Linked DNA regions of Homo sapiens: all the other regions are linked to region 2. The links come from fine-mapping of genetic effects on gene expression. A gene starts in region 2. Each other region holds a variant in brackets. All regions are shown on one strand. Distances are between the middles of the regions.

Region 1 (5,294 bases), 24 kb before region 2:
GAATGGAAAACCGAATATCGTGTGTTCTCACTTGTAAGTGGGAGCTAAGCTATGAGGATGCAAAGGCATGAGAATGATGTAACGGACTTTGGGGACTTGAGGGATAAAAGACAATTTATTGGGTGTACACTGCTCAGGTGACAGGTGCGTAAAATCTCAGAAATTACCACTAAAGAACTTATCCATGTAACCAAAACTACCTGTACCCCTAAAACTATTAAAATTAAAAATTTTAAAATGATGAGCACCCCATCCCCCAAATGTAAGCCTTGGACCAGAGTCTTATTAAAACTAATGAATATGAGCATAGAGGTCTGCATATAGAATATCTGGGGCTCTGAACTCCCTAATACTTAAAAGTATAATCACTGACCTATGCCAGGGCTATGGCCAAGTTGAGGAGAAGAATGAATTTGTTATTGTAATTACAGTATAAAAGGATTTTTCAGCTTACTCTTAAAAACAAACAAACAAACAAACAAACAAAAACATGATCCTGAGAACTCCCTTTTACCCAACAAATCTAGTCAATTTTTTACCCCATGCTAACTTAGTATATATTGTCAGTTACTGCAGACGATTATTTCCCAGTAAAATTAGTTTTGGTCCTTACTGAAGACAGGAGGATGAATTTCAAGCCCCTGCAGACTGGGTTTAGGTTGGCAGTACGGTCCCAGACTTGGAAGAACTCTTACTTTGACCCTGACATAGAATAACTTTTTGCTTTTGGGTTAGAGATTTCTCTGAAATGTACTGAAGCCACAATGTTTTCCACAAAGGAATAATAGCATATACCATTAGGTTCCTAAAAATGCTCCAGCAAAATCCACATAATCATCTTCCTTTCTGAGAGATTATGATTTAACACCAGGTGGACATCTGGTATTAAGGACTATTTATGTCCTAGTCCCCCCAAGATCCTTGTCTTCTGCCATCTTTGTAAAGCAGAGTGCTAATTTTATTGCTTCTGAGACCACTTTAAAAAAATCATTACAGCTTCATGAAAATGATTTTACCCATAGAGAAGTTTAGAGTTACATATATTTAAAACAACCAAGAATCAATAGCAGTTATCTGAGATCCAGTTCCAAGTGGTGTGTGTGTGTGTGTGTGTGTGTGTGTGTGTTTTGAGAGAGTCTCACTCTGTCACCTAGGCTGGAATGCAGTGGTGCAATCTCGGCTCACTGCAATCTCTGTCTCCCAGGCTCAAGCGATTTTCCTGCCTCAGCCTCTCCAGTAGCTGGGATTACAGGCGCCTACCATCACACCTGGCTAATTTTTTTGTATTTTTAGTAGGGACAGGGTTTCGTCATGTTGGCCAGGCTGGTCTCGAACTTCTGGCCTCAAATGATTTGCCCGCCTCAGACTCCCAAAGTGCTGGGATTACAGGCATGAGCCATTGCACCTGGCCCCAAGTGTTTTTTTTTTTTAACTAAGCTATATTTACAATAAAATTAGAATAATTGACTATAAGAAAAAGATACAAGTCAGTGGCAGAAGAAACAGATGTTTGTTCATGGGTCTGCCCCAGGGTCTCTAACTCCATCTAGCATCAGGGCAGAGGACCAGAAAGAGCCTAGTCAGTGAGAGAAGAGGCGAGGCAGAAAATATTCAGTGACTTCTGACTTTGCAGATAAAATTTCTATCTGGAAAGGAGGCAGTGCTTCACCAGTGATTTACTTCATCTCTTATATCCAGGTTTTGTTTTAAAATACATCTCAATAACTTCCCAATTAGTGATGGGGTCACTAATCAAGGGCAAAATACCAATTCTGATTTCATGCACTATACAGATTTGTTTTCCTTACTTGGTTGGGAGGAGAAATCTACACAATTCAGGAAGAAATACGGAGCTTGTTCTGCACATGGAAAAACATCAATATTAAATGTGTTTTATAGGTTACTGAACAGGCTCTTGTGAAATAAGCTGCCTCTGTTGCCACTAAGAAAGCAACCTTGATCACTCACATTGTCATTGGGATAGAGGACCCGGGAGATGTTCTCGGCCAGGTTTCGGTCCAGCACAGCCTGAATGTAGTCTCCAACATTAACTAGGGGAAAGTTAGAGAAACAATAAATAGAGAAACCAGCCATTGTTGTTGGAAACCTCTTGATCTCACTGGCTCTGTGCTGTGTGTCATGTGGGATTCCTAAAATTCCTAAAAATCCCAAAGGATTTCAACACACCGTCATGCTGGACTTCACATGAGAATTGCTTTAAAAATGCCCTCCCTACTTCCTCCATACAATGCCTGCTTAGTCAGTGAAGTTCAGATCAGAAACTCAAGGCTTTTTTGTTTGTTTCAAGCTCAATTTGGTTCTAACTACCAATCAAAAAGATTAAGCACACGCATAAAGAAACCAAGGCCTGTGCTGTACTCACAGTCTCTGAGGTTAAAGTCATTTGGTGCCCGAGCAGACCAGAGGCGCATGGTGTTGACAGTGTTATTCATGTAGCCGGGCACGGGGGTGTCATATGGCAGAGCCAGGACCACCTGTGGGATTAAACAGAAGCAGCTGCTCATTGTTTCCCAAGTGTGATGACATAGGTTGAACAAGGGGCTGGGAGACTGCAATGGAATTCTATTCCTGGCTCCATTACCAACTTAAATTGTGTGAGGCCTAAATGGAGAAGAGGGTCTCAGGGCTGCAGAGGGTATTAGAGGAACATGTGGTTCCTCCCCGACCT[G/A]GTACAATCTAGTGACTGAAACCATCCACACTGATGGTCCTTTACAGTATTTCTATGTTGACTCTCCATGTGCCCTTGCCCTGATATAAATGCAGTGGAATGGAATGATATGGTATTTGTATTCAAAAAAGTTTATCTTTTTTTTTTTTTGAGACGGAGTCTCACTCTGTTGCCCAGGCTGGAGTGCAGTGGTGCAATCTCGGCTCACTGCAAGTTCACACCATTCTCCTGCCTCAGCCTCCCGAGTAGCTGGGACTACAGGTGCCCGCCACCATGCCCGGCTAATTTTTTTGTATTTTTAGTAGAGACGAGGTTTCACCGTGTTAGCCAGGATGGTTTCGATCTCCTGACCTCGTGATCCATCCACCTCGGCCTCCCAAAGTGCTGGGATTACAGGCGTGAGCCACTGCACCCAGCCAAAAAAGTTTATCTTTCATGTTTCAGATAAAGCCATTGCTCTAATAATAATAAAATATGATATGCAAACAAAGTGACATTGTGAATCTGTACCCACCAAAAAATAGCACTTAGAATATGTTTTGCATAGGTTTTTCAGTGATCTGATTTCAAGTATGATGAAAGTAAATGGAATAGGAAATTTATGAAGCTATAACATCTCATATAATATTTAAAATGCTATGCTAGATTTTTAAAGTTGCATAAGGAGTTATTTTAGTGATTCCTACAGTGATCTGCCAAATCAGCTGATAATTAGCTGAGTTGAGTCTAAGAGGTAAGCTTTGGAAAATCTAGCTTGATCTTTGTGACAGTCACTGAAATAGAGAAGAGGAAGATTAACTATGTTTCACAGTGCATCGAAAATTCAAGTGAGAAATCATTCATTTTTATTCCCGGCCTCATCAGAGTCAAGCTCGAAGGAAGGAGAATGACAGAATAATTGAACTGGAGGATGCTGGATCTCATTTAGTGCAACCCACTTATTTTGGACATGAGGGAGCTGAAGCTGAGAGAGAAGTGACTTGCCCAAGATCACAGTCATGGCAGGATTGAAACTTAAACACGCATCTCTTTAATTTGGTCTGCTGAATTGTGAATGAATGAAGCATTATGGCCCATATCAATCACATATACTCAGTCATACTTTCGTGATCACCGCGACCTCAAAGTAATAAATCACCCTCATTTAAATATCTTTCATTAAGAGATAAAAGTCTCTGGACTTTTAAAGCAAGTTGTAATCAATCAGGGAAAGTCATTTGCAGGCTGGGATTGAGTCTCGGTTCAAACAAGAGTTGGACCCTTCTGACCCTTGAAGCATAATTAAGGCAGCCCAAGAAGTGCACAGCTTAGATCTTCTTTCAGAGAACCTCAAAGAGGACTTGCTCCCTCAGAGCTCACACCAAAGCTGCGCTCTCTGGGACACTCCATGTGGCTGGGACACTAGGGCCGAGACTTCTCTAATGGGCAATCTTTAGTGTCAGGCTCCATCAGCCTGGCCACTTGCTCAGAGTGGCACTGTGGTCTGAGGCTCTCCCTGAGAATGCTGCTTCTTTCCCCTTCACTTTTCACAGGTGGCACACCTGTGTCACAGTCTGAAGCCTTCCCACCTCATCCTGCTCCCTCTCCCCTTTGTCTTTCATAGGCATCCCCCAATATGTCACTTGCACTTCTCATTCTCTCTGGTGTCTGTTTCCTAGAGGACCTAAACTGACACGTGACTGTGTCATTTGACTTTATTGGAAGCCATCCCATGCACGCACAGAGCACATCTGGACTCATGCTCTGACATCACTGGGTACCAGTTTGGGGTTAATTCATGTGATGACTTCAATCTATGAGGCTAAGTTGCATGGCTTGGGCCAGCTCACTTATATTACCTCTGCCCCCTAACCTTGCCTCTGTTGGCCCAGAAACACACACTCTCTCTAATTGAATTTCTGGATACATTATGACAGTATCTAGAGGTGTTTTGTAAATGCAAGTTAGCTCAGCAGTGGGACCCACAGTGTAAATAAAATGCTTCCAGGATTGATTGTGTAAACTGCAAACTTTTATTTTTATTTTATTTTATTTTATTTTTTTTGAGACAGAGTCTCACTCTGTTACCCAGGCTGGAGTGCAGCGACATGATCTCAGCTCACTGCAACCTCCACCTCCTAGGTTCAAGCGATTCTCCTGCCTCAGCCTCCCATGTAGCTGGGACTATAGGCATGGGCCACCACTCCTGGCTAATTTTCGTATTTTTAGTACAGATAGGGATTCACCATGTTGGCCAGGCTGGTCTTGAACTCCTGACCTCAGGTGATCTGCCCGCTTCGGCTTCCCAAAGTGCTGGGATTACAGTTGTGAGCCACTGCACCCAGCCAGGAATGACATTTCAAATTATTCAATTTTGCTATCAACACCTTAATATAAAACCAAAGAGGTAAGCATGCTGGTTACTATAGAACTGACAATTTTCTGGCAAAAAAAAAAAAAAAAAAAAAAGAACTGACAATTTTCTGACAAAGCTGGTTGCAAAATGACCCTTATAAAAGTCACTCCTCTCTTGGCCTCAGCTCCTTTGTCTCCAAAATGACTGGGCTGCGCTAAGAGAAGTAACAGATTTATTTACAAAAATATATTCTATTATTCAAAACACGAC
Region 2 (5,294 bases):
AGGGAGGTGGGAGAGGAGCTTGGACACACCTACTTGCTCTACTTTATGAGGGCAGGAACCATCCTGTTTAGACAGACGACTGTGATGGAGTAGATATTTGATGAACACGTGTGGAATGAAACATGTTCATTGTTGTATCCCCAGTGTATCGCTATCAGAATTTACACACGTCGGAATTCCTGGCTTATATCTGCACTCACGTAGAAAAGGAGAGCCCAGTGAAGAAACTGGCCGGAGAACCAGGAAAACCATAAAGCACTGCATAAGCCACTGAAGGAAAAACATACAAGATTCTCTGGTGCTCTATGATGCTAAATGCTACAGAGGCGTGAGTGTGTGTTTCTAATATATGCTCAGTGTCCCACCCTTCCGCTTAAAATTGTTAAAAATAATTTTTAATGAGAGGCGCAGTATGGTGTACTTAGTAGCATTCCCTTTGTGTAAATAAATTTTTAAAAGATAGTGGCCGAGTGTGGTGGCTCACACCTGTAATCCCAGCACTTTGGGAGGCCAAGGAAGGAGGATCATTTGAGGCCAGGAGTTTGAGAGCAGCCTGGCCAACATGGTGAAACCTTGTCTCTACTAAAAATACAAACTTAGCCAGGTGTAGTGGTAGGAGCCTGTAGTCCCAGCTACTCGAGAGTCTGAGGCAGGAGAATCGCTTCAACCCTGGAGGCGAAGGATGCAGTGAGCCAAGATGGCGCCGCTGCACTTCATTCAGCCTGGGCGAGAGTGAGACTCTGTCTCAAACAAAACAAAACAAAACAAAACAAAACAAAACAACAAAACAGTAAATATATGTATACATAAAGTGTTTTCTAAGGTGCATTTAAATTTTTAAGGATACATTTTAGCAGTTGCTACCTTGGTGGAGGCCTAGGTCTTTGGGGTGAAGAAGAGTTACTTTCCATTTGAAAACTGTTACAGTTGCAATTTCTTACTATGAGAATTTACATTCATTTCCTTTCTTAAAAATTCCTATGGGGTTTCTTGGGCACTGGGATTATAGACCATTTTTTTTTCTTCACACCTTTACATAATTAAAAAGTTCTAATAAATGTTTATATATATTTCCCACTGCCCCTGGGATGTATCCCAATCTTTTATTCTTTCCAATATGTCTCTACCTGGCTTCTCCAGTTTCCTCTCCCAATACAGACTCACACCCGCCCTCACTCCAGCCTGCACACAATCCCTCTCCCTGCCATGTCCTCCCCAGTCCTTCCCCACTGCCTCTCGCCCTCTTCGCAAACTGTCAGGCAGAGATATTGTCCCTCTGTAGGTCCAAAATCACCCTAAGGAGGTCTCTGCTCCCGCCCCCACGCCGTGGATGGAGGTGGTCCCTGACCAGCCTTCCTCAGCAGCTCTGGGGGCAGGCCTCGGGTGTGGAAGGGCTAAGGGTCGGGGGAGTGTGTGTCTTCGGGGAGGACGAGTCCAGGGCATTGCCTGGCCCTGGGCCGCCTTTGCGAAAGACTCACGGAATTCCAGGAGCTACACCCACTCAGGAGAATGGGTGGGCGGCGCTCTACGCTTGGAGCGGGACCCTGCCCCTCCTCTGCACCACACTTAGCCACTCCCAGAGGCCTGAGACTTACGACCTTTTCCCAGCTCGGCGTTTGTCTCCCCTCCCAAAATACCAAGCTCCAGCAAGGCAAGATTTTTGTCCCTTTTGTTTAGGGCTGAGTGTCCAGGGCAGAGAATAGTGTCCGGCATACAGGACAAGAGGCCCCCGTCACCTCTTGATTAAATGCTGAGAGTCAAAGTTCCAAAAAAGTTTGTGAAGTGGACAGGCGAGAGGGGCCTGGGCTTTTGCCCACCTGGCGGTTTCCAGGGGCGGACGGCACAGTGGTTTGGGCGGGACACTGGCGGGTGGCACCTCGGAGACATGAGTTCGGCGTCTGTTGGGAGGCCTAATCTGTCCCCCAGGCTGCCCGCCCACAGCCTAGACACGTCTCCTCTGGACTTCGGGGCAAGGACCGGGTGCAAGGGACCACTCTGAGGGGTTCTCCACCTCGTCCCGCCCGGCCGCGGCCGGAGACTCCGACTCCGGGCTGGACCCCGGCCCGCCGTCCCGCCCCCGGTTACCTTGGGGCACTTGTCGTAGTAGTGCTGCTGCGTGCGGATCCAGCGCCCCACCAGGTGGTCGCGCACCGTGTGCGCCAGCGCGAAGTAGTAGTCGCGGGTGGTGGCCACGTTGCGGTCCTTGACCAGCGTGAAGTGCAGGTGCCGGTTGAAACTCTTCTTCAGCTCTGCCACGTTCTCCACGCCCACGATGCCGCGGATGCTGATCTGCCGCCGCTTCTCCTGGTCCGTCAGGGGCTTCGCCATGGCTGGGGCGGCGGGCTGCGCGGCGGGCTGCGCAGAGAGCTGGAAGTGCGGCCGGAGGCGCTGGGCTGCCGGGCAGGGGTGGAGTCCGCCCCGCCGCGCCAGCAGCTTTCAACGCGCACGAAAGTTTGGGGCCCGCCCCCTCGGGCGGTGCCGTCCCCGCTGCACTCCCACCGCGTCCCGGCCCCTGCCCCAGGCCGGAGGGCAGAGGAAGTGCCCGGCCCCTCCCGAGGCTCTGGGGCCGCAGTGGGCTCGGGGGTGGGAGACGAGGTCCAAGCGCCGGCGAGACCCCTGCCAGCCCGGGACCTGGGCTCGGAGGCTCCCTTCCGGATTTCCAAAATCTGCGGAGGCAGCATTTGTTCCGCCTCTCCCCTCTAGAGTGTGGAGACAGGAGGACGTCTGTGTAGGGAAGCACGTCGTTGGCAGACTGCTGTTTTGCCGATGTTTATTTGTTATGCCATTATGACTGTTAGGATTTCTCACCTGGAGTGGCTTCCGCCATAAGCGCCGGGATCTGGAAGGACGGCACGTTTGACTTCTGTTGTCCCAACCTCACTTGCCAGCCCTTGGCACCGCCCCAGCTTGGATCCTCAGGGCGCCTCTGTTATTTTCATTCATTTTTTTTGAGGACTCCAGGGTTCAGGTTTCTTAACTCCTGGACCAAAGTTCGCCCCGCTCGTAGCACCCTGTCTCTCATCCTTAGAGGTAGGTTACTAAGAATCAGAGTAGGTGAGGTGAAGCTCTAGGGTCATTATGCGGCAGGGGCTTTTACCTTAGGCTTCTTCGAATTACGTTTTAACTGCAGTGGAGGGTGTGGGGGGAGGAGAGGGAGAAAACAGAAGGGTATGTGTGTGGAAAATGAAGGGATTACTCACTGGACTAGTTGCCTTCTTTACAAAAAACAACCCAGTCTGTGTTACTGTGCGGTACAGGCTGATCTTTGCACCTCCACTTTGGGTGGTATTTGAATATGCGTGTTTATGTGTGCTTAAACCTTGGTAAAGGCAAACACTTGGCATTTTAGGATGTCAGAGGTTTTTTCTTCCTCATTAAGTAGTATTAATATATTATTTTAGAAACAGTCCATTGCCAGAATTAAGTTTTCTTTTTCCTTTTTCTTTTCTTTTTCTTTCTTCTTCTTCTTTTTTTTTTTTTTTTGAGACGGAGTCTCACTCTGTTGCCCAGGCTGGAGTGCAGTGGCGCGATCTCGGCTCACTGCAAGCTCCGCCTCCCGGGTTCACGCCATTCTCCTGCTTCAGCCTCCTGAATAGCTGGGACTACAGGCGCCCGCCACCTCGCATTTTTTATTTTTTATTTTTTTATTTTTAGTAGAGACAGGGTTTCACCATGTTAGCCAGGATGGTCTCTATCTCCTGACCTCGTGATCTGCCCGCCTCGGCCTCCCAAAGGGCTGGGATTACAGGCGTGAGCCACCGCGCCCGGCCAATAGTCACATATATTCTTCTAAGTTTATTTGTTTGTTGTTTTTTGAGACAGGGTCTCACTCTGTTACCCAGGCAGAGTGCAGTGGCGCGATCTGGGCTCACTGCAAGCTCCGCCTCCCGGGTTCACGCCATTCTCCCGCCTCAGCCTCCCGAGTAGCTGGGACTACAGGCGCCCGCCACCACGCCCGGCTAATTTTTTGTATTTTTAGTACAGATGGGGTTTCACCGTGTTAGCCAGGATGGTCTCGATCTCCTGACCTTGTGATCCGCCCTCCTCGGTCTCCCAAAGTGCTGGGATTACAGGCGTGAGCCACCGCGCCCGGCCAAGTTTTCTAGAAAAATCTTAGTATACTTATATTAATATATTTTGTTTTTTATAATAAACCCAAGTTGATTATTTTGAATTCACACATGGTGGTGGTGGGGGGGGGGGGGGGGGCGGGTAATGGATTAATTGATTCAGACCAAATGTGACCCTCACCATAAAAGTGAAAGTTCAAAGCTCATAGTTCTGACAAAATTTCCTGAATCCTTGTCCTCCCAGATTCTGAAGTTTGGACTTGAGCTTTTGGGGCAGAGACTGAATTGGGCCTTATGCAACTCTTGCAATACCGATGACCTGCAAAGGACAGTATGGAAGAGATGAGCATTAGAGTTTGGATCCGGATGGGGCCAGAAATACCCTGAATTAAGAGTGGGAAGGGGGGGCCCATCAAAATCATTGATCTTAAAAATAAGTAAGGCCTGTGGGGTGAAATTTGAAATAAAGCAGAAAGATAAGCTTCTTTGATTATTATATAACTTAAAAAAGTGTTTATCAGCTTTGAATACCCCCAAGATGGTCACAGCATTAAGCCAGTTATGGGTCATTCGTACATAAGTGTGAAATTAGTCACTCAGCTTTAACAGCTGGATGAAAAATAGGGTAGAGCCTAGGATGAGGGAATACCAGGTCTGAGTAGGTCTTCCTCCCAGAAAGGTCTCTGAGCAGGAGAAGGCATCATAATGTCTGGGCATTGGGGAGTGAATAATTAGGGGGCACACAAGAAGGGATGAAAGACACCAAAAGCAAGCTTACTCGGTTTCTTAGTTTTGCTTAAGACAGTTTCAAATAGATGGCTCCCAGCTCCGCTGTCTACTTTCCTGTACTAAATTCTTGTTGGAAACTCAGGGTAATGATGAACTAATGAACACACTATTTTCTTGATTCACTATCCAGTCGGTGAGCCTGCACCCCCGGCTTGAACAATTCTCTATGCAGAAAAATCATGAACTATAGAATGCTCAATATATAGAGTATGGGGAAAAACTATCCATCTCCATGTTAAAAAGAACGTGATGGAACCAGGTGATTTAGGGTGTTCCATAGACCCAGTCTTAAACGACAATGAATTACATTGCAAGACAGTTATTCCCCTTTCACTTTTCTTTAAGTCTTTCTGGAAAGTCCTTTGTGTTAACATGTTAGCATTTTTTAATCTATATTTTTAACAGAATGCAGGTACAGACTCTAAAAGTTCTTGA
Region 3 (5,294 bases), 24 kb after region 2:
GTGTCTGCGGGGGCATTGGTTCCAGGACCTCCCTGAGATACTGAAATTCACAGATACTCAAGTCCCTGATATAAAATGGTGTAGCATTTTCATATAACCTCAGCAGGCTGGGCTCTCCACCCTCCTTCCTCTCACTGCATGCACCTCACCCTCACTAACTCTTTGACTTACTGGGCTTGTTCCCGCCTCAAGGCCTTTACCCCTTCCCTTGGTCTTGGCTTCTTCAACCCAAATATAACCCCTTCAGAGAGGTAATTGCTGACTTTTCCATATCTCTCTATCTCATAGCCTGTTGGATTTCCTGTGTTGTATTTATTAAGACTTAAAATGATTTTGATCTTTACTTATTATTTCCCTATTTGAATATCAGCTCTAAGAACGTAGGGACCTTGTCTATTTTATTCACTGGTATTCCCAGTAATAGCATTGTTACAACAGCATTTATCACTTAATAGGTGCTCATTAAATATTAATCGTATGAATGAGTGTGTTGTCTGTGGTACATCCTATGTGTAGCAATCATATGTCATATAACCTACAGGTTAAGAGCCTGTGTCTTGGAGTCAGACTATTTGGGTTCAAACCCTGGCTGTCATACTTGTATACTGTGTGACTTTGGGCAAGTTGCTTAACCTCTTGTGCTTCAGTTTCTTCATTTCTAAAATGGTAATAATAAAAATGCATAAGTAAGATGAAGGGTAAGTAAGATGATTCACTAAAAGCCCTTGGTACATTGCCTGGAAAACAATAAGATTCAATATTTGGCAACTTACATTATTAGAGCACGGTTGTCTCTCCATATCCGTGAAGCCTTGGTTTCAGGACACCCCTGGGATACCAAAATTCACAGATAGTTAAGTCTCTGATATAAAATGGTGTAGCATTTGCATGTAACATATGCAAATCCTCCTATATACTTTAAATCTCTAGATTACTTATAATACCTAATGCAATGTAAATGCTTTGTAAATAGTTGTTATGCTGTATTCCTTTTATTTGTATTATTTTTCTTGTTTTTTTAATTTCCTTCCCAGCATTTTCAACCCAAGCTTGTTTCAATGCACCCATGTGGAACCTGCGGATATGATGAGTGATTGGATTTCTCAATTGTAAGAAGTTCTAGTTAGAGATTGTATGATGCACTACTGGCTTAATAGTAGCTCTTTTGGCCGGGCATGGTGGCTCACGCCTGTAATCCCAGAACTTTGGGAGACCGAGGCAGGCGGATCACCTGAGGTCAAGAGTTCAAGACCAGCCTGGCCAACATGGTGAAACCCCGTCTCTACTAAAAATACAAAAATTAGCCTGGCATGGTGGCGTGTGCCTGTAGTCCCAGCTACTCAGGAGGCTGAGGCAGGATAATTGCTTGGACCCGGGAGGTGGAGGTTGCAGTGAGCCAAGATCGCACCACTGCACTTCAGCCTGGGCAATAAGAGTGAAACTCTGTCTCAAAAAAAAAAAAAAAAAAAAATGGAACTGTTTTGGAGAAAACCAAAGCCAAGTTCAACATTTAATATATACCACTTGGGAAAACTCTACTTACAATAGCATGCATTATCTGCCACAATACATGCTACTTTGCTCTTCAGACTAACAAACACAATTCGGTCCCCAAGTACCTCTGTATCAAGCAGGGCCACTGGCAGTTATACGTAATGTAATGATTACCCTTGCACGAGATCTGGACCTTGCTAGCATATTTGTGAGGCTGCAGAATAATTTAAAGAATGCAGTGGGATTATGTGTGTGTTTTTTTCTTTCTTTCTTTTCTTTTTTTTTTTTTTTTTGCATTTCTCTTTTGGCTATTTTGTTTGTATTGCTACTGTTAACTGAATTATAAATAATAGGAAATAAAGAGCTTCTGGGAAGTAGCTGGAAGCTTTTGACAGATTTAGACATCTGAATGATAGCTCTTCACATATCAGTTGGTCCCAAAAACTTTTCCTAGATTTCAAAAATTTGTGATTTGTTCTCAGCATCTTGACAATTTTATTAATTATATTATCCAGTGTATGACTATTTCAATTGTATATTATCCAGTGAATGATTATTAATTTTATGCATGTACAATATATTTTTTCATTTCTATACTGCATTATAATGGGATCTTTTAAAAGACCTTTTAAGTGATAATTAAGATGTGAATTTAAGTTTATCAACTTTCAAAGGAAATAACAAGTAACAGAATGATGAAATTGTTAGCTGGTGTAATGCCTCTGTGACATAGCTGAATTTCTGCTCTGCCCTAACACTGCTTTAAGAAACAGGATGCCTGCAATAAAAAGTTCCCTTTGTAACCGGAACAGTTGAGACTGGTTAGAACCAAAATAGCTGAGCAAATGA[C/A]TTCAGAAAGAACTCGGGCTTCATTATAATCTCATTTCCATGCTAAATGACACTCTGACCATCACCATAACAGTGGACAATTGCTAGGACAATGACCAGAAGAAGCTATAAAAGGACAAAAAAGGAGGAAGGCATCACTCCAGTTCTGGGAAGTTCACTGACCCTTTCCAGAAAAGACCTGAGTCTTCCTCTTTTCATTTTCCTTTCTTTTTTTTTTTGAGACAGAGTCTTGCTCTGTTACCCAGGCTGGAGTGCAGTGGTGCCATCTGGGCTCCCTGCAACCTCCGCCTCCCAGGTTCAAGTGATTCTTCTACCTCAGCCTCCCAAGTAGCTGGGATTACAGGTGCGTGCCACCACACCCAGCTAATTTTTGTGTTTTTAGTAGAGAAGGGGTTTCACCATATTGGCCAGGCTGGTCTTGAACTCCTGACCTCGTGATCCATCCACCTTGGCCTCCCAAAGTGCTGGGATTACAGGTGTGAGCCACCGTGCCCGGCCCCTCTTTTCATTTTTAATGTCCATCCTCTTCGTTAGAGAAACTCTTTATTTGCACCCCTCACCCCTCACTGGTCAAGAAGTTGATTTGTGAGCCATGCTTCCACTTCTTAATTCCATGGCCATTGAATAAAGCCTGCTCTACTTGACAATTTTAGTTTTGTGTATTGGCTTCATGACACTGAACATGGAAAGACTTCATGTTTTGAGGGATCCACTTTGTTGGTTATAAGATGATGCCCCCCATCTTATTGTTTTTCCAAATGTGTAGGCAATAAAAACTTTGCTGAGTATACACTACCCACTCATTCCTTACCTCTGGGCTGTCAGCTCTAGACACACATTAGAATCACCTTACAAATTCCAGATTCTCAGGCTGCATCTTAGACCAACTAAATTAGTAACCTGGCATCAGTATTCTTTCTTTCTTTATTTTTTTTTGAGACGGAATCTCGCTCTGTCGTCTAGGCTGGAGTGCGGTGGCGCGATCTCGGCTCACTGCAAGCTCCGCCTCCCGGGTTCACGCCATTCTCCTGCCTCAGCCTCCGGAGTAGCTGGGACTACAGGTGCCCGCCACCACGCCCGGCTAATTTTTTTTGTATTTTTAGTAGAGACAGGGTTTCACTGTGTTAGCCAGGATGGTCTCGATCTCCTGACCTCGTGATCCGCCCTCCTCGGCCTCCCAAAGTGCTGGGATAACAGGCGTGAGCCACCGCACCCGGCAGCATCAGTATTCTTAAAGTTCCCCAGATGATTTCAGTGTGCAGTGGAGGCTGAGAACCACCACTCTATCAATGGCTGAAGAGTGTCTTTCTTTCTTTTTTTTTTTTTCTGCGACAGAGTCTCGCTTTGTCACCAGGCTGGAGTGCAGTGGCACAATCTCAGCTCACTGCAATCTCCACCTCCCGGATTCAAGCGATTCTCCCGCCTCAGCCTTCTGAGTAGCTGGGATTACAGGCATGCACCATCACACTCGGCTAATTTTTGTATTTTTAGTAGAGACGGGGGGTTTCACCATGTTGGCTAGGCTGGTCTCGAACTCCTGACCTCAAGTGATCCACCCGCCTTGGCCTCCCAAAGTGCTGAGATTACAGGCGTGAGCCACCACCGCTCCCAGCCTAAAGAGTTTCTTTTGACATGTGTTGTAAGATGTGTCTTGATTTGAGAGATGTTAAGGTGTAAAAAACAAAACAAAAAAACCAGCTGGGTCTGGTGGTTCACGCCTTTAATCCCAGCATTTTGGAAGCCCGAGGCAGGAAGATCCCTTGAGACCAGGAGTTCAAGACCAGACTGGGCAACATAGCAAGATTCCATCCCTACAAAAAATTTTAAAATTAGCCAGTAGTGGTGGTATGTGCCTGTAGTCCCAGCTGCTCAAGAGGCTGAGTCAGGAGGATCCCTTGAGCCCAGAAGTTTGAGGCTGCAGTGAACTATGATCATGCCACTGCGTGCCAACCTGAGTGACAATGTGAGACCTTGTCTCTCAAAACAGAAACACAAAACACAACCCTTGCATCTGAGAAATAAGAAAATTGTAATTGCTATTATTAGTCTAGCCCTAGAAGGATTCAGACCATGAAAAATATCATATTGGGTCAGATCAATTTTGTGGGACAACTGATGTTCCTTAGTTGTTCTCCTTTTACAGTGTCTTTGACATTGTTTACTAGGAGTGCACCCCATGTATTATAAAGCTTCCTTTGGTTACTGCCAGACACCTGGCAAGAGCTTAGAAATGAAGCTTGATGCATAAAGGAAAAAAAAAAGGAAAAAAGGGAAACAAAACAAAAAGCATGGTGTGTGATGCGTGTGAATCTCCTGGTCACTGGGTGCACCCTTGTATCCTGTACTCTTTTGGGCCCCTGATTTCACATCCCAACTCCCCTTGGAGTTTGAGGTCAGCCTGACCAACATGGAGAAAACCCGTCCCTACTAAAAATGCAAAATTAGCTGGGCTTGGTGGCACATGCCTGTAGTCCCAGCTACTTGGGAGGCTGAAGCAGGAGAATCGCTTGAACCTGGGAGACAGAGGTTGCGGTGAACCGAGATCATGCCATTACACTCCAGCCTGGGCAACAAGAGCGAAACTGCGTCTCAAAAAAAAAAAATAGACTCAGTGTTTCATCTGATTCCTTGGGATTCTCGCTTTCCCCATCCCTAAGGCAAGGAGAGCAGATGCTCAGATTCTCTTAATATCAAAGCAAAGTGTCCCCTTAGCTAGGATGATAGCTAGCTTAGCCTCAGCATATGTGTTAATTCTTGGTCTGACTTGAAATCTTGAAGATGTGGAATTTGATAGTGGCATGGAGGTTTGGCTGGACCTCAGAAATTTTAAAGACTGAGTGATTTCTTTCCTATAAAGAAATTTGTGGTTTTCTGCTGGTGTATCAGGTCTTAATACAACACTACACCTAGATAAAGTTTGCGTATTCTGCAAAGCCTGTTATTTCTGCCAA
Region 4 (5,294 bases), 32 kb after region 2:
GAATCAACGGAGAGCAGCAGCAGCTACCAACTGTGTACTATTCCACTCTGTGAGGTTATAACTCAGACCATATATTTGTAGGTAATGTTTTTCCTTTAATCAAGAAACAAAGTGTTTTTTTAGTGGCTAACAACAATGTTAGGTAGATGAATAATGTTGTAATTATTGTTTTGCCATTCAAAGAAATGTTAAAGGAGCTAGGTTTGAAAAAGTCAGTGACACTCTGTTTTGCAGTACTATAAAATTGCAAGCCAAATGTGTGGCTTTTTAAAAATAAAGTAGGCCAGGCTCACGCCTGTAATCCCAGCACTTTGGGAGGCCGAGACGGGTGGATCACAAGGTCAAGAGATCAAGACCATCCTGGCCAACATGGTGAAACCCCGTCTCTAATAAAAATACAAAAAAATTAGCTGGGCGTGGTGGTGTGTGCCTGTAGTCCCAGCTACCCGGGAGGCTGAGGCAGGAGAATTGCTTGAACCCAGGAGGGGAGATTGCACTGGGCCAACATTGCGCCACTGCACTCCAGCCTGGTGACAGAGTGAGATTCCGTCTAAAAAAAAAAAAAAAAAACAGAAGTAAATCCCCAATACTTGGAAGCAGACCCCAGACATCTCCACTGGACATTTCACATCAGGTTAAATTTCATATGAGTAAAACCAAAAGGCAGTGCCACATGCCCAAGGAAACAGGGGAAAGAACACATGCTCTCCAGAGCTCTGGGGGCCTTTCCAATGAGATCTTCCTGAAGAAACATCGCTCTGACAAAGGTGAATTGTCATCCGCAATAGATAAAAACTAAGAAATTCTAGAGACATTTTATTCTCTCATAAAAATCATTTATTGGCACATCAGAAATGACAATTTTTTCTAGTATAGTAGTTGTATGCATCTGTAATTGCAATTCAGTGTAAACTACATGTTACAAGTCACTAGAAATCTAATTAGCAGGATGAATTTAATAAAGAACAAGAGGAACTATGAGTCTACCACGGCCCAGCCATTGAGTCTCATTGGAGAGTAAATCAAATATCAAACTAGTGTTGCCCTGCAACAGTTTTTCTGTAGCCAAGAAAAACCAAGACACACATAAACAGGATAGCACCCATTCCATAAATTAGGTACACTTAACTAGAAAAAGATTGTAACTGATAGAAATAATCTAAATAAAGTAAGCACAAAAGTAAATAATTAGCTATTTACATATATTCCTTTTTGCCAAAACTTTAATTTGTTAGCTTTCCCATCCTATCTCTTCCCTTCTATTTGTTATTCTTGTTTTTTCATGGTGAATTTCTTGGCTCACTGAAAAATATTTAGACAACTAATTAGAACTTCTTTCCGGGTCCTACCTTTCCTAAAACTTTATGACAAACTAATGAATTTCAAGGGTAACCTATGTAAGTCTATCTCTATATAGAAGTAAGATGCATTATTATTCTGCTATCAGTCATAGTAATGACATACAGTCCCATGTTTTTCCAAACATTGTTTGGACTACTCCAGAAAATTAGGCTGTGAATGGCAGCAGAGTGGATGGATTTTTCATTCATAACAGGCACAGATAGTATATATGGAGACAAGCATGTTTATCCTGAGAATGTGAATGCTGTGGACTGCAACTCAAGATCTCCCATTACTGAGAATGGGTCCTTTGCCCTCTGGTCACTCTTTTTTTTTTCAACTGTCAATTTTTAAGGCGTGGTATCATAGCAGCATCAGCAAATAAGAATGCTGACATCATTTCTACCAAGAAGGGCTCTGTGATGAGTGGCAGCAGGTACCATAATTAAATAGTGCAGCTGAAAAGGCATTGAGTTGGTACATTTCTGGTGCTATGGCCAGAATGTGTGGATTTTTAGCATCATTCTAGGAAGCCTGAAAGATCTTGCCCATGAGTCTCTTTGACCCTTGCCCATTTCCTTTCTAGTACATATGACCATTTATAATTATTTTATTTTTGCTTTTTCTCCTACTGGAATATAAGCTCCGAAGGGCAGAGACCATGCCTGTCTGTTCACCACTGTGTCCCCACAGTGTCTAGAACATAATGTTCTAGTGTCTTGAACAGTGCCTGGTCAATAGTAGGTTCTCAATTAAAAGCTTTTATTAAATAAACGAACCAAATCATTAAGTCCCCTGGTTTGCCTGTGTCTTAGAGACTTTCCAATTTTATACAGTGGCCAGGGTTCTGGCCTATCCTAATTATAGAGCCATCCTAACGATCCTACCCTGATGTGAACCTGTGTAGCGGATATTTTTGTGCTTCAATGAGTAGTAAAACTTCTCAGTGATAGATTCATTCTCCCAAAGCTTAGCTCTGCAGAGCTAACGCTACAGGAGAGGTAAGAGGGTAAGAACATTCTAGCAGGTAAGCTGTATGCTACAAATTCAGCTCATTCTTCCCTACCTCCCCCTACAACCTCATTGTTTGACAGAAAGCTTAAGAAAAAAAGTTAGCAGGAGAATTTTCTCCTGGCGGTGCCAGTCCAGTAAGTCACCAATAACCTGATCAGAAAAGAAAGAAAATATAACTCACCTACATAAAAAATTAAGTTAAATAAAAGCAAAATCTGGGAGTGGGAACCAAGTGACTTGGTGGGCTGTCTAGGTCCTTTGTTGGTTAGAATTGTTGGACATGGAAGCGGAAGCAGGCATGACAGCGGAGGAGAGGTTGAAAGGGAAAAGGGCAGAGCTGTGGGTGTAAAGACTGCAGAGGACCAGCTTTTCTCTCCTCCTTCTCCCACTCCTGCCAACTCTGCACCCCACCACGGCTGGCTGAGCTCCTTGCTGTGGCTCTCGCAGG[C/T]GGAGGTAAGAACAGGCAGCTGGCGCCTCCACGGCACATCCTTAGGCTATTGATGCTCTGCTGGAGTAGAAGTCGGGGACTGGGAGCCCGGTGTGCAGCGTGACCTGGGGAATGAGACTGTGAGTCCTGAGAGGCATCGTGCATCCCCCTGTCCCTTTACACAGTGTACCGTGGGTGTGTCCCTAACTCAAAAAGTGTTCTGTTTGCTTCGCTTTAAACATCTAGGCTAGCAGGCATTAAACGGAATTCAAGAAGAATCCTGCCTATGGTAACAGGCTGCTCACCATGGTGGGCTCTCAAATCCTGGTGACATTTGATTATATGGTTCTTAGTCACCTGCCTCTTTTAAAGGATTCCGGGGAGATTGTGTTCCTTATAACTGAAGACACAGGCCTTGGTTTTCAGATAGAGGAGCCTACTGGCCACACCACAGTGACCACTGCCAAATCCATGGATAGAGGACAGATTCGCAGAGACAGCACTTCCCTTATTACTTGTCCACTAGTTATTGTAATTAGGGCAAACATTTCTTTCTGGGGTCGCATAGATGATTGCCAGTTGTGAAAAAACATGGCATTATACTATTTTACCAATTTCCGTGTATCCCCAAACCTCAATGGATAGCTATGGATAAAACTAGAACCATTTCATGCAGTTCTTATCCCTGTCTTCTCCAGCCCAAGAGTCTTTATCAATAGATAATCAGAAGGTCCTGAAAACCCCTGAAGAGCATCTAGTATAATATTCTTTGAAAGGGAAATGGCTAATGTGAAAAACCTTGAATGGGGTTTTTCTGAGACTCGCTTCTAGGGTAATTTATGGTTTTCTTTCTTAAAGTGTAGAGGCTGAACTCTGAAAGATTAGATTCCAGCCTTCTAGAAAACCCCATCTCCTTGCAGGGAGAAGGGCAGGGGCTGCTAGTTTGCAATCAATGTTACTGCACATACTGAAACACAACAATGAATTTTGATAAATAGTTTCCAAGGCTGGTTCTGGATAGGGCAAAAGTCACCTGTAATTCTCAAGCCTTATCTCAAGACAACCATTTGTGGAATGAGGCTCATAGTTGTTAATGAGATGCCCAGCTCAGGAGGGAAGTGAAACCCTAAGTCCTGACAGCGGCTGGCAGGGCACAGCTCTTCCCCCATGCATGGCTCTGGTCCCCCTTCCAGGCCCCAGCCCAAGAGTCTCTCCACCATTCCTTGCCCATGCAAGGCCCCTCATGCCTTAGAAACTGTGCACAGGCTGTTCCCTCTGTCTGGAAGGCTCCACGCAACTCACTCCCTCACTCCTTTAAGGCTCAGCTCACCGGTAACTGCGATAAGCCCTACCTACGCAATACTGTGGCTGCCCTTCCCAACCACACCACTCATGGGCCCTTGGTCTTTTCTCCACTGCACTAAACACCTTCTGACACACCATCTGATTAACATTGTAATTATGCTTATTATTTATTGTCTGTCTCCTATCACTAAGATGTAAGTTCTATGAAGGCAAGATTTTTATCTGTTTTTTTGTTTTTTTTTTTCACTGATGTATCCCAGACACTTATAACTGTGCCTGGCACATTAAAGGCATTCTATAGATATTTGCTGAATGAATAAATGAGAAGCTGTTGTTTTATTCTATAATAAATAATAATTGACTAAGTTGTAGGTAGGGACTATGTTTTCTACCCCTTAGGACCTAACAGAGCCAAACAAGAGTGCAGAGAAGATGCTCAGATTTTCTGATAATGATACTAATGCTTCAGTCTTACACCCTCACCTCTTCTCAGGCACTCCTGAGCTTTGTTAAGTCATTCTATTTGTTTTCATGCCAGTTGGTTAAAGGCTTTCGTTTCTATTTAGAGGTGAAACTAGAGCTACAGAGATGATCATTAGCCAACCATGAAGAGAATTCTAGTTTCCTATGTGCTATTAACTAGTCTGCGTCCAAGTATAAAGAAGGTGCTTATGCTTGGCGTGGAATAAAATAAGTTGCCAGTGCTGATCCCTTTCTCTCCTCCTCTCCTTCATATCTTGGTCTGGGCCTTACGCTGTCAGCTTCCCTCTCTTCGGTTGGATTGAACGGCCCTGGGCAGCCTTTGAACCGGTAGCCAGCAACAGCTGTTTAACCTCAGGGGCAGGGTGCTTACCTGCACGTTCCTGTTCAGGCTGACCGCAGGGAAGAAGAGGCCCTCCACGTTATCAAATGCTATGGGACCTTGTTGTTCATCGTTGATAAAAAATGTCAAGTTTTTTCTATTTAAGTCGAGGAGGACCCCAATTGTGGCCCCTTTTGTGATCCCTCCCTCAGTTCTGTAGGAAAAGAGAAAAATTGGGGTTCATTTCCTTGTGGTCACTCTAGAAGCTCCCCCCTTTTGTGTGGTGAAACCAGTGTCTTGCAACCTGTTTATAATCATCACTACCCCAAAACCGTTTCCCTAATCATCCCTTGCACATAAATTTTAATACCGCAGATATACTGTATACCTGTTGGTACTGTGTGT

Which allele goes with the higher level. Positions count from the first base shown, and alleles are read on the strand shown. Sizes are in standard deviations (SD) of each study's normalised expression. Not every link is listed here.
For the expression in cerebellar hemisphere of the gene that starts at base 2,408 in region 2, allele T in region 4 goes with a higher level than allele C (large effect, 1.4 SD a copy in GTEx).

Evidence for each region. PIP is the estimated chance that this variant, and not a neighbour inherited with it, causes the effect.
Region 1: its variant is fine-mapped to the expression of PYGL in whole blood (TOPMed, PIP above 0.99).
Region 3: its variant is fine-mapped to the expression of PYGL in whole blood (TOPMed, PIP above 0.99).
Region 4: its variant is fine-mapped to the expression of PYGL in cerebellar hemisphere (GTEx, PIP above 0.99). The same link has a PIP of 0.9 or more in cerebellum, cerebral cortex, prefrontal cortex and putamen.

What each region holds. Positions count from the first base shown.
Region 1 is chr14:50,918,573-50,923,866 of GRCh38, forward strand. PYGL (glycogen phosphorylase L) reads right to left here. Exons shown (of 20, transcript NM_002863.5): 6 at 2,384-2,495; 7 at 1,969-2,051. Among named protein-coding and RNA genes, the nearest start is that of PYGL, 23 kb to the right of the region's middle. The variant G/A (reference allele first, on the strand shown) is at 2,690.
Region 2 is chr14:50,942,076-50,947,369 of GRCh38, forward strand. PYGL (glycogen phosphorylase L) reads right to left here and starts at 2,408. Exons shown (of 20, transcript NM_002863.5): 1 at 2,086-2,408. The coding sequence starts at 2,328. LOC124903314 (a long non-coding RNA gene) reads right to left here and starts at 515. Exons shown (of 2, transcript XR_007064163.1): 1 at 34-515. LOC400212 (a long non-coding RNA gene) reads right to left here. Exons shown (of 4, transcript NR_170195.1): 4 at 4,215-4,389. RefSeq lists an enhancer at 1,236-1,759 and a silencer at 2,428-2,587.
Region 3 is chr14:50,965,638-50,970,931 of GRCh38, forward strand. No RefSeq gene overlaps it. Among named protein-coding and RNA genes, the nearest start is that of PYGL, 24 kb to the left of the region's middle. The variant C/A (reference allele first, on the strand shown) is at 2,344.
Region 4 is chr14:50,974,447-50,979,740 of GRCh38, forward strand. It overlaps TRIM9 (tripartite motif containing 9), which reads right to left. Exons shown (of 13, transcript NM_001387360.1): 12 at 4,941-5,103; 13 at 820-2,907. The coding sequence ends at 2,845. Among named protein-coding and RNA genes, the nearest start is that of PYGL, 33 kb to the left of the region's middle. The variant C/T (reference allele first, on the strand shown) is at 2,804.